Linked DNA regions of Homo sapiens. The protein of the gene in region 2 interacts with the protein of the main gene of each other region in a biochemical or structural test. Each region holds a gene or a part of one and is shown on either strand. Other genes may lie near its edges. The genes, in order: FMR1, NUFIP1 and GEMIN2.

Region 1 (3,753 bases), on a different chromosome or scaffold from region 2:
TAATCCCTTCACTTTTTAATACATTGCTAAAGTTTGTAAGTAATGCACAGGAGTGATACTCTGTTAACACATTGACCTTGAAGAATTTGTATTCCTTTTGGATGTATGTATAGCTGCTTAAGCCACTTTCAGACTTAGATTATCTTTTATAAATGTGCCTTCCATACAGAATTCTGAAAATATTTACCATGGACAAAGAAGCAGATTTAAATCAGGTACAGACAAGAATTGAAAGTGTTGAATAAGTGAATATATTTCCCATTCTCTCTACTTTTTTCTTAATTCTTATAGAACTTTGCAGAAAGAATGATACATACCACAGTACCAGCAAGTTTAAAGCGTACCCTTTTGTGCAAAAATAAGAGGTTATCTTTGAACTGCCTTAAAAATCCAAAATTACCCTATCAGTTTGCAAGTATTAATCAACTCTGGTACCTGACCAAAGGAGTTTAAACAATGATGTCCTAATTAAACAGAAAACCAGATTAACCATCTTGTTGAAAAGAGTCTCTACTTTGGTTTTGAAATCTTACAATTCAATACATACACATACACATAAAAATATCTATCTATATGAATGTAATAGTTTACAGTAGGGCTGTGCTTACTGCTTTGAGGTATGTGTTTTTAAAACCAAACTTGATTTATTTATTTCTTAGGCAAAGTAATAGGAAAAAATGGAAAGCTGATTCAGGAGATTGTGGACAAGTCAGGAGTTGTGAGGGTGAGGATTGAGGCTGAAAATGAGAAAAATGTTCCACAAGAAGAGGTATGTTACAGTGCGAATATTTTGTGGCACATATAATAAAAGTAAAAGTTTTTTATGTGATATGTTGAGGACCTCTAATATGTGCATAAAGTGAATGCAAATATTCTGATTATCAAGCATGCCTGCTGTAATTAATGTTATAATTGTAGATAATGGCCCTTCTCTGTCCTCTAATGCAGTGAGTTTGGATTAGTCACTTTATTGAATTCTTTTTTCCTGATCTTTAAAATGGGTAGTTATAAATTTTTAAATATGAGACATACATCACTGGGTCGAGTGTTAATGGCAATTTAATAAAATAATATATATGTAAATGCTTCGTAAAGCACTTTGTAAATGTTAATGTTGCTGACAAAAGCAAAATTGGAACACAGGTTTTCTGGCTTTCATCTTTTCACTTTTTTAGTGTGGGGATTGTGTAGTATGTGTGTTTATTCTGTGTGCTTTAAATTTATTTCTGTGCTTAATATCTCTTCCCCATCCTCCTTACCTTTAAATTCTGTAACCCTTTTATCTTCATAAATATATGCTTTTTGTAGCAGCTTTTAAAGTATTTGCATGGGGTAGAGAGGTGAGGATGCACCTTTCTGTGCAATAGTACTCTTAAGATACTGTCTCATCAAAGAGCCGTAATTTTCACATATTGTCTAGCTTTCTTTTTGAAAGATTCTTTTAGCTAAAGTTAAATCTTTTTTTTCTGCGTACAATTTGTATTCGGTAATTTTATAAACCAAAACTGTTTATAATAACTTACATTTTTTAAAAATATGATGATTGATAACACTAATAGAGCTAAATAAAGTCTTAAATTGGTCCTTTTTTTCTCTTTTGTGTTTTCTGTTTTTTACCAAGGAAATTATGCCACCAAATTCCCTTCCTTCCAATAATTCAAGGGTTGGACCTAATGCCCCAGAAGAAAAAAAACATTTAGATATAAAGGAAAACAGCACCCATTTTTCTCAACCTAACAGTACAAAAGTCCAGAGGGTAAGAATTACTTGTCACTTTGAATTACAATACAAGTAATTTGTCTCAGATGTCACAATTGGTATTTTGGATGTTTTCTCTGGTTAGACTTGTAGGCTACTTATGTTCTATTTTTTTTCCAAATGTAATTGCCAGCTTATGAGATACTACAAATTAGTGTGATACATACTTTTCAATTTATTCACAGTAACAACTCTTATGCCATAAACACAAAATAATGGGGTTGCATTTAGTGGTCACATTTTTCTTTTGACAGTGGACTCTCTTTTTTCCATGCCTTCTCTCTTTAAATTTTGCAGGTATCGTAGCTCAAAATACACCTTCTGTTAGTTGCATTAGTTACTACTTGAACCATATTTTAGAAACTAATTTTCTCTGTTTGAACTAATCTGTTTAGAAATGGGTTTAAAAGTCCTGCAGTGAAAGTCCTGCGTTCAGGCTTCTGTGTATCGTTTGTTATAGTTAATGACATCCCTTGCATTCCTTATACTGCTTTAGGTGTTAGTGGCTTCATCAGTTGTAGCAGGGGAATCCCAGAAACCTGAACTCAAGGCTTGGCAGGTAGGAAAACATTCCTTGAGAAATACACTTTCAGTTTATATTTTAATGTTTATTCCCCTTGTTAACAAAGATTACAAATGATCCTCAGGATTAGGGACTGGAGGGAGGAGTGTTTGTGGGTATGTGGATCCATTGCCCTGGAGTTAAAGCTTAAACACCTTCATGCCGCTTGTAAGGCTTTTCCTAATTACTTGTCTAGTTATCATCTTTAAATTATCTTCTCCCTTGCACTCTAGAGAACCTTAAGCCATACTGAAGTACTTTGAGTTCTCTGAACATTCTCGTGCTTATTTTGCTTCTAGACATATGTACAGGTTTACTCTGCCTGGAATGCTTTTTCTCCTCCACATGTCACCTCATTTTGACCTTATTCCTTACAAAGCTTTCCTTGTGTACTTGCCGAAGATCCCCACCCCCTTGACTGGTTCAAGAGCCTTCCCCTTCTGTTTTGCAATGTGCTCACCCCTAGCATAGCACTTAAACATAGATGTTTATTTGTTGATCTCCTCAACCACATTGTAAGTTCTTTGAGGGCAGGGAGAGCTGGTGAGAACTGTTTATGGAAAAAAATGTTGTGGACTCATGGATTAAAAGCAAAGGTGCCATTTTACAAAGAGGACTATAACGGCAAGTGGATTGGATATGTCTCATTGCCGGGCAGCCCATTATTCCAGAACACAGAGTAACTTTTTTCTGGGGTCCGTACTAAAGGCCATCATTCCATTCTTGCCTTTCTTCATTTTAATTTACTATTCAGGTCTACTCGTGAAGTGCTTAAATTAGAGTGGCCCTTGGGGTACTCCAGCAGTTTAGACATGTTGCAAGAAAAGATATTCGTAAATAATTTGCTCCGAAGTCAATCTAACTAAATCTGTTACATAGGATTTTAAAGCTATTTTGGTGATATTTGACCCAGAGGGAAGGGTGTAGCATTCATTCCATCACATGGTATTTTGGGAAATAATACAGTTAAAGGCTTTTGTAACAAATAAAGCTTGTTGGAGAAAAACCCAACATGCAGAAATGAATTGCCAGTTATTAATTTGCACAATTGTTTCTAGGTTTCCCTATAACTTGTGACAAGAAGTAGTTGTTTTTTTTTTCCCTCTTAATATATATATATATGGGCTAGGAGTACAGACATTTAGCATATGCCTTTTAAAAATCTGTTCTTATGTTAAGTAGTGTCCATAGAGAGAAGTTCAAACTTTCCTTGTGATTCAGCCTTTTAAAATTTTCAGAGTACATTATTGAAATGTGTATGGGCTTGATAAAACTTAATGCTTGTCAATGTACCTATTTTTTTGTCTCACAGATTATTCAGTGCATTTTTATCCTGATGTTTTTGTTTGTATTTTGTGTGTACTCTATTTACTTGGTTAGCAGAAATGATTTACTTTTTACTTTTGTACCCTTGGTATTTCATTTTGATTTTT
Region 2 (3,753 bases):
AGAAGACTTTGTCTGTGGGAAGCATTCTAGCTCACTGGTAACAATTTGGATTTGGAGTCAGATAGCCAGGCTTTAAATTTGACCCAACTGATTTATAGTTATCTTAAGGAAAGGTTACTCAAATTCTCTGGATTTTTGTTTCATCCCTCATCACATACCTCATAAGGATTAGGTCAGATCATGCTTTTGAAGAGCATAATATTCAACTATTACTGTACTTTTTGTTACCTCTCTTTGAGTCTTGGAAATAAATGCTGCAGTTTTTTCTTTCATCATTCAGCCAATGAATGGGAAGTCTCCATACTAACACTGTGGTGGATTTCTGCTTAATCTACTAGTAATTCACATAAACTTCATACTTTCCTTTCCCTTTATTAATCAAGGAGTAAAGGTAACTTAGCTTAAAATTGACAAGGAGTACTTTTATAGGTGTGATGGTGTGTAGTGAGGAGAGAGGATTTAGCTCCATCCAGCAGAAGGTGGCAGTTGAACATTCACATAGAAAGATATTCCCATTTCCTACTGGCATGCTTTGGTTTCCCCTAGACTGACTTGGTGAACATTAAATGCTTAGTCTTGAAACATTTTATATTGGTTTTAGGTTGAGTTGGTTAATTAAATAGACAAATTACTTATTGTCTTCAGTGAGGCCTTATTTTTATTGGTTGTCTAGAATAGAGTTACTAGATTGTTAGAGCTGCCAAAAAGAAATGTAATAGGTGGTGTCCTGGGGCTACAACTAGGCTTGCTGGGCCTGGATCAAACACTTTATATTTGGCAGGCACTTTAGTATTATGCTTGGTAAATTCTCATGGTTGCCTTGTTTATTTAAGTTCTTAGAAGTTTTAAATAATAAAAACTTTGAGTGGGCTGGTCACAGTGGCTCACACCTGTAATCCCAGCACTTTGGGAGGCCAAGGCAAGCTGATCAACTTGAGGCCAGGAGTTTGAGACCAGCCTGGCCAACATGGTGAATCCGCATCTCTACTAAAAATACAAAAAATTAGCTGGGCATAGTGGCACACGCCTGTGATCCCAGCTACTCAGGAGGCTCAGGTAAGATAATTGCTTGGGCCTGGCAGGCAGAGGTTGTGGTGAGCCGAGATTATGCCACTGCACTTCAGCCTGTGTGACAGAGCAAGACTCTGTCTCTAAAAAAACTTTGGGTGGATTAATTCCAGCATTACTGTTTGACTAAGCCTATAGAATGCTTTGAATATTATTTGGATCCCCAAAAACAGTCTTAAAAACAGTTAAAAGCATAGGTATTTTAATACTTCATTTATTTCTAAACCTAATTTTCAGAGGCAGTGATCCCAATCCAGTGAAGTTAAATAAAGTTTGGGTCTTCCTACTACCTGTAAATGAACAGCAAAGACTATGTAATTAAGTTAATTTAGAGTATGCTCAGATTGTATAACCTGTGAAGCATGCTAAGTAACTGAGCTCTATATAGCTTCCTTTTCCCTCACTGTCTCCTCTGGGGCAAATGGTTTCTTGGCCCATGAAGATGTCTAAACCAAGGGGAAGTGTTTCTGGCCCCCTAGAATTAGTCTTTTGGAAAGATTAAGGAAATGATCAGAAATTACTTAATTTTCACTAACAAATGAGGGAATGGGGGATGGACAGCTTTTTTATGGTGGTAGATGTTTTGAATCTGACTTCTTTTCCCTTCAGAGTCTGATAAGGAGGAGAAACCACAACATTCTGTGATACCCAAGGAAGTGACACCAGCCCTATGCTCACTAATGAGTAGCTATGGCAGTCTTTCAGGGTCAGAGAGTGAGCCAGAAGGTAAGTCATGGTGTGTGTTGTTACAGGGTTTTGTTTTGTTGCTTTTTGCCTTTTGTGCATGCTGCGCATTAATAACATCCAGGATGTGCATCCTTTATTTGGTTTTCAAATTCCTTTTCCATTTGAATCAGAAGTAAAGTTAACATGGGTTAAAGGAACTCTGGAGTAATAAAGAAATGTGTTGCTACTCTGGGAATAAAAAGGCAAAAAAATACAATATAGGCCGGGCGCGGTGGCTCACGCCTGTAATCCCAGCACTTTGGGAGGCCGAGGCGGGCGGATCACGAGGTCAGGAGATCGAGACCATCCCGGCTAAAACGGTGAAACCCCGTCTCTACTAAAAATACAAAAAATTAGCCGGGCGTAGTGGCGGGCGCCTGTAGTCCCAGCTACTTGGGAGGCTGAGGCAGGAGAATGGCGTGAACCCGGGAGGCGGAGCTTGCAGTGAGCCGAGATCCCGCCACTGCACTCCAGCCTGGGCGACAGAGCGAGACTCCGTCTCAAAAAAAAAAAAAAAAAAAATACAATATAATGAAAGAATAGGAAGGAAAAGAAAATATCCACTAACAGAACTGAAGAAAATTCTAAACGAAATGGCAAAAAGAAAATTCATTTTTTTCTCTCTGCTCTGAAGAACCCTTGTTATAACGTGTTTATAGCATCTTTGGTAGATGGAGAGAGATCTTTTATGACAAAGAGTGTGATACAATTTTTTTAATGCATATAGGGCATTGTTCTTCCTAGAGCATATTTACATAAATTATCTCATTTGGAAAACACAACAACCTTATACTTGTGTCTGCATTAGCTTGTGCATTTTAAAGGTCGGAAGAAATTGAATCTTTTCAAGAGTCTTTCTGAGAAGTCAGTAACTTTCAGAATACATGTCTTACCTTTAAAGATGATGTTACGGATGGTAACGTGTGAGGCTTCATTGTGAAATTTAATTGTGATAAACCAGTTTAATTTCCTTCAGCATCTCTTTCAGGGCTACCTGAAAGAGCCATGAGTAGGCTCTTGATCTGATGCAGTGTAGCAGTTTTTAATCCAAGGTTTATATCAATAATCCAGCATATGTTTAATGAATAAATCTATGTTCCACTGTTGTGGACACCTGGCTCTGTGTGGTCATTTTATTTAGACTTTACCAGCCGTGAGAAAATTCATGTCTATGTCTCAGGACAAGATGTGTAATCAAAGTAGGAGCTGTGCTGAGAATAAGAATACAGGTCTAAAAGTGTTTATATAGAATGAAGAGAAGATTCAAATGTAATTGGATGGGCCAGGCACGGTGGCTCACATCTGTAATCCCAACACTTTGGGAGGCTGAGGAGGGTGGATCACCTGAGGTCAGGAGTTCGAGAGCAGCCTGGCCAACATGGTGAAACCCCATCTCTACAAAAAATACAAAAGTTAGCCGGGCATGGCAGCACGTGCCTGTAGTCCCAGTACCCAGGAGGCTGAGGCAGGAGAATTGCTTGAACCCAAGAGGCAGAGGTTGCAGTGAGGTGAGATTGTGCCACTGTACTCCAGCCCGGGTGACAGTGAGACTCTGGCTCAAAAAAAAAAAAAAAAAAAAAGGAAATGTAGTTTGATGGAGATGGCAGCACTTTTAATGTTGACTAGGCTAGAGATAATCAATGTTTATGTATTTGGAAGATGTTGAATAAGGAGCCGTTAGGCTTTAATATGAAAAATGGTGTTTACATGTATCTGTAACATGGGAAGTTTTTTCTTTTTTAAGTGGGCCATGGCTTACTATGGTAGCTTCTTAATAGCTACTTGAATTTTGAAATATAAGCTACTTTGGCTTTATCACAGTATTCCTTAACAGATGGTTGCCTATTTTAATTTTAAGAAAAATAGCATTTTTTTGTGCTCTTGTTTCTCATACATTGGTGTGAAGATGGAGTTATTCTTTAAACACATATTACATTTCCTGCTTATCAGTTGTATTCA
Region 3 (3,753 bases), on a different chromosome or scaffold from region 2:
ATTAGGTTTTAAAAATGTCATTCTAATTCAAGTGTCCTTAATTCTTGAAAATATTAGCTTTAGCTGAAGATTTTGAAATGGTGTATACAACATATTAATGTCATCTTATCAATGTTACAGTTTTATTGGATATACTTAATAAGTTAGTTTTTTCAAGTACTATCATGTAAAAAATTTTTAGTCTTTAACATTTTACTTACTAAAATCATACTTTATTTAAAAATTTACAAATTCAGACCAGGTGAGGTGGCTCATGCCTGTAATCACAGCACTTTGGGAGGCTCTGGCAGGTAGATCACTTGAGCTCAGGAGTTCCAGACCAACCTGGGCAACATGGCAAAACCTCATCTCTACCAAAAATACAAAAAAATTAGCTGGGCGTGTTGACATGCACCTGTGGTCCTAGCTACTCGTGAGGCTGAGGTGGGAGCATCACCTGAGCCCAGGAAGCAGAGGTTGCAGTGAGCCAAGATCGCGCCACTACACTCCAGCCTGGGTGACAGAGTGAGACCCCATCTAAAAAAAAAATTACATATTCAAAATTTAAGGCGTTATTTTCTTCCGCATTACAAACATAGTAGTTTCCGGAATGTCTCATTGTTATGGACAATGAAAGAATTTTCTTTTATTTGTTCTTTGTTTCTAAACAACAGTGTGGCAAGAAATTCACCAGTTTGAAAAAAAAAAATGAAGCTTATAATACCATTTAGTAAAATTCAGTCTCATTTTTTCTTTCAGATTGGTTTTCCTCCCTTGCTTAGTATTGTTAGCAGAATGAATCAGGTAAAATTAATAATAGAGATATATGCATTCTTTTGTTTGCATTGTGTGTGAAAGTATTTGAATTGTTAATACATATACTGAATTCTTACAGTATGCAAGACTTTGTCCTAAGCTCTTTAATGGTTCTTATTTAATCCTTACTACAACCCTCTATGGAGAGTTATTATTGATAACTACTTTTTATAGATGAGGAAACAGCATTTGAGGTTAAGTAACTTGCAGGTGGTTTTTCAGCAAGTAAATGGCAGTACTGAGATTCAGTGCCAGGTAGATCTAACTCCAGAGCTCATGCTCTGTCTTAATCATGGTGCTAGAGTATTCATTTCTGTAGCTTTCAGTTATAAGTCTTAGATTCTGGGGTTTGAATTAAATACAAGGTCCCTGACTTACAATGGTTCAGTTTAGGATTCCTTTTTTCCCACCATGCCTGGCTAATTTTTGTATTTTCAGTAGAGAGAGGATTTTGTCATGTTGGCCACGTTGGTCTCGAACTCCTGGCCTCAACTGATCCACCCACCTTGGCCTCCCAAAGTGCTGGAATTACAGGCATGAGCCACCATGCCCAGCCATTTTAGGAATTTTCAACTTTACAATGTGTTTATCAGCACATAACCCCATTGCAAGTTCAGGGGCATCTGTACTAAGGTTAGATTGCTATTTCTAGTTCTAGATGTCCTATACATTCTATTAAGATTGAAATATGGGCCGGGCGCGGTGGCTTATGCCTGTAATCCCGGCACTTTGGGAGGTCAAGGCAGGTGGATCACAAGGTCAGGAGTTCGAGACCAGCCTGGCCAACATGGTAAAACCCCATCTCTACTAAAAATACAAAAATTAGCTGGATGTGGAGGTGTGCACTTGTAATCCCAGCTATTTGGGAGGCTGAGGCAGGAGAATCGCTTGAACCTGGGAGGCAGAGGTTGCAGTGAGCCGAGATCGTGCCATTGCACTCCAGCCTGGGCGACAGGGCGAGACTCTGTCTCAAAAAAAAAAAAAAGAAAGATTGAAATATATGATTTCTTGGATCAAAAGGGAAGAATTATGGAGTTTGGTTCTTCAGTTTTTTAGGAGTAAGGACTCTTATTCATTTAAAAAGCAAATAAAAATTTAATTTTATCTTCACATAGCATTGGGTACCTTTGGAAGCCTTTTTTTTTTTTTTTGGCAGGGTCTCATTCTCTTGCCCATGCTGGAGTACAGTGATGTGATCTTGGCTCACTGCAGTCTTGTACTTTGGGGCTCAGGCAATCCTCCCACCTCAGCCTCCTGGTAGCTGGGACCACAGGCATGTGCTACCATGCCTGGCTAATTTTGTTTATTTTTGGTAGAGACAAGGTCTCACTGTGTTGTCCAGGCTGGTCTGGAACTCCTGAGCTCAAGCGATCCTCCCACCTCAGCCTCCCAAAGTGCTGGGAATACAGGTGTGAACCACTGGGCCCAGCCAACAATTTTTTTTGTGGGTGATATTCTCTTGGAAATAATACACAAGCTGACAGTGTTACTTAATCATTTGCATTAAGATATTGTAGCAGTCATACTAAATTCCATCAGTGTCATTTTTGTTGTAACCATCAACTGTATTTGAATAAACCAGAGATTATTTTCAAGAGTTTGATAAATCCATCTGTATAGTTTAAGAACAGATTTTTCTCCACCTAAATTTTTATTCAGATTTGTACTTTGATTTAATTTGAATTTAGAAATAAACTGATGGTTTTTTTGTTTTGTTTTGTTTTGTTTTGTTTTTTGAGAGGGAGTCTCGCTCTGTCGCCAGGCTGGAGTGCAGTGGCACAATCTTGGCTCACTGCAACCTCCACCTCCCAGGTTCAAGCAATTCCCCTGCCTCAGCCTCCCTAGTAGCTAGGACTACAGGCGCACACCATCACACCCAGCTAATTTTTTGTATTTTAGCAGGGATGGGGTTTACCGTGTTGGCCAGGATGGTCTTTGTCTCCCGACCTTGTGATCCACCCGCCTCAGCCTCCCAAAGTGCTGGGATTATAGGCATGAGCCCACCGCGCCTGGCCAACTGATGGTATTTTTACAAATACATCTTTTTTTTTTTTTTTTTTTGAGACAGAGTTTCGCCTTTTGCCCAGGCTGTACTGAAGCGGCAGGATCTCAGCTCACTGCAACCTCTGCCTCCTGGGTTCAAGCAGTTCTCCTGTCTCAGCCTCCCGAGTAGCTAGGATTACAGACCCCGCCACCATGCCTGGCTAATTTTTGTATTTTTAGTAGAGACGGGGTTTTGCCGTGTTGGCCAGGCTGGTCTCAAACTCCTGACCTCAGGTGTGCCATTGTTTTTTTTTTTTTTTTTTTTTTTTGAGACAGAGTCTCACTCTGTTGCCCAGGCTGGAGTGCAGTGGCAAAATCCTGGCTCACTGCAACCTCTGCCTCCCAGGTTCAAGGGATTCCCCGGCCTCAGCCTCCCTAGTAGCTGGGACTGCATTCACTCACCACCATGCCCGGCTAATTTTTGTATTTTTAGTAGAGATGGGGTTTCACCATGTTGGCCTGGCTGGTCTCAAACTGACATCAAGTGATCCACCTGCCTCGGCCTCCCAAAGTGCTGAGATTACTGGCAAGAGCCACTGAGCCTGGCCACAAATACATTTTCTTTTAACCTTGTGAAGTCTTTCAAGTAGTTACAAACTAAATTATTAATAGTTACAAACTAAATCCTAGGATTTAAACCAAGGTGTTAGTTGATATTTGAAAGTGTGAAAATATTTGTTTTAAAAGCCTCACTGGGGCTAGGCGCGGTGCCTCACACCTGTGATCGCAGCACTTTGGGAGGCCGAGGAGGGCGGATCACCTGAGGTCGAGAGTTCGACCAGCCTGACCAACATGCAGAAACCCTGTCTCTACTAAAAATACAAAAATTAGCCGGACGTGGTGGTGCACGCATGTAATCTCAGCTACTCAGGGGGCTGAGGCAGGAGAATTGCTTGAACCCGGGAGGCGGAGGTT

The links.
Region 1: the proteins of NUFIP1 (region 2) and FMR1 form a complex in vitro, tested with the Homo sapiens proteins (one study listed by BioGRID).
Region 3: the proteins of NUFIP1 (region 2) and GEMIN2 form a complex in vitro, tested with the Homo sapiens proteins (one study listed by BioGRID).

The regions. Positions count from the first base shown.
Region 1 is NC_000023.11:147,935,845-147,939,597, forward strand, and holds part of FMR1 (fragile X messenger ribonucleoprotein 1), read left to right. Parts: intron 1-659; coding exon 660-769; intron 770-1,621; coding exon 1,622-1,756; intron 1,757-2,254; coding exon 2,255-2,317; intron 2,318-3,753.
Region 2 is NC_000013.11:44,947,763-44,951,515, reverse strand, and holds part of NUFIP1 (FMR1-interacting protein NUFIP1), read left to right. Parts: intron 1-1,677; coding exon 1,678-1,794; intron 1,795-3,753. UniProt on the Homo sapiens protein: Binds RNA.
Region 3 is NC_000014.9:39,124,254-39,128,006, forward strand, and holds part of GEMIN2 (gem-associated protein 2), read left to right. Parts: intron 1-738; coding exon 739-783; intron 784-3,753. UniProt on the Homo sapiens protein: The SMN complex catalyzes the assembly of small nuclear ribonucleoproteins (snRNPs), the building blocks of the spliceosome, and thereby plays an important role in the splicing of cellular pre-mRNAs.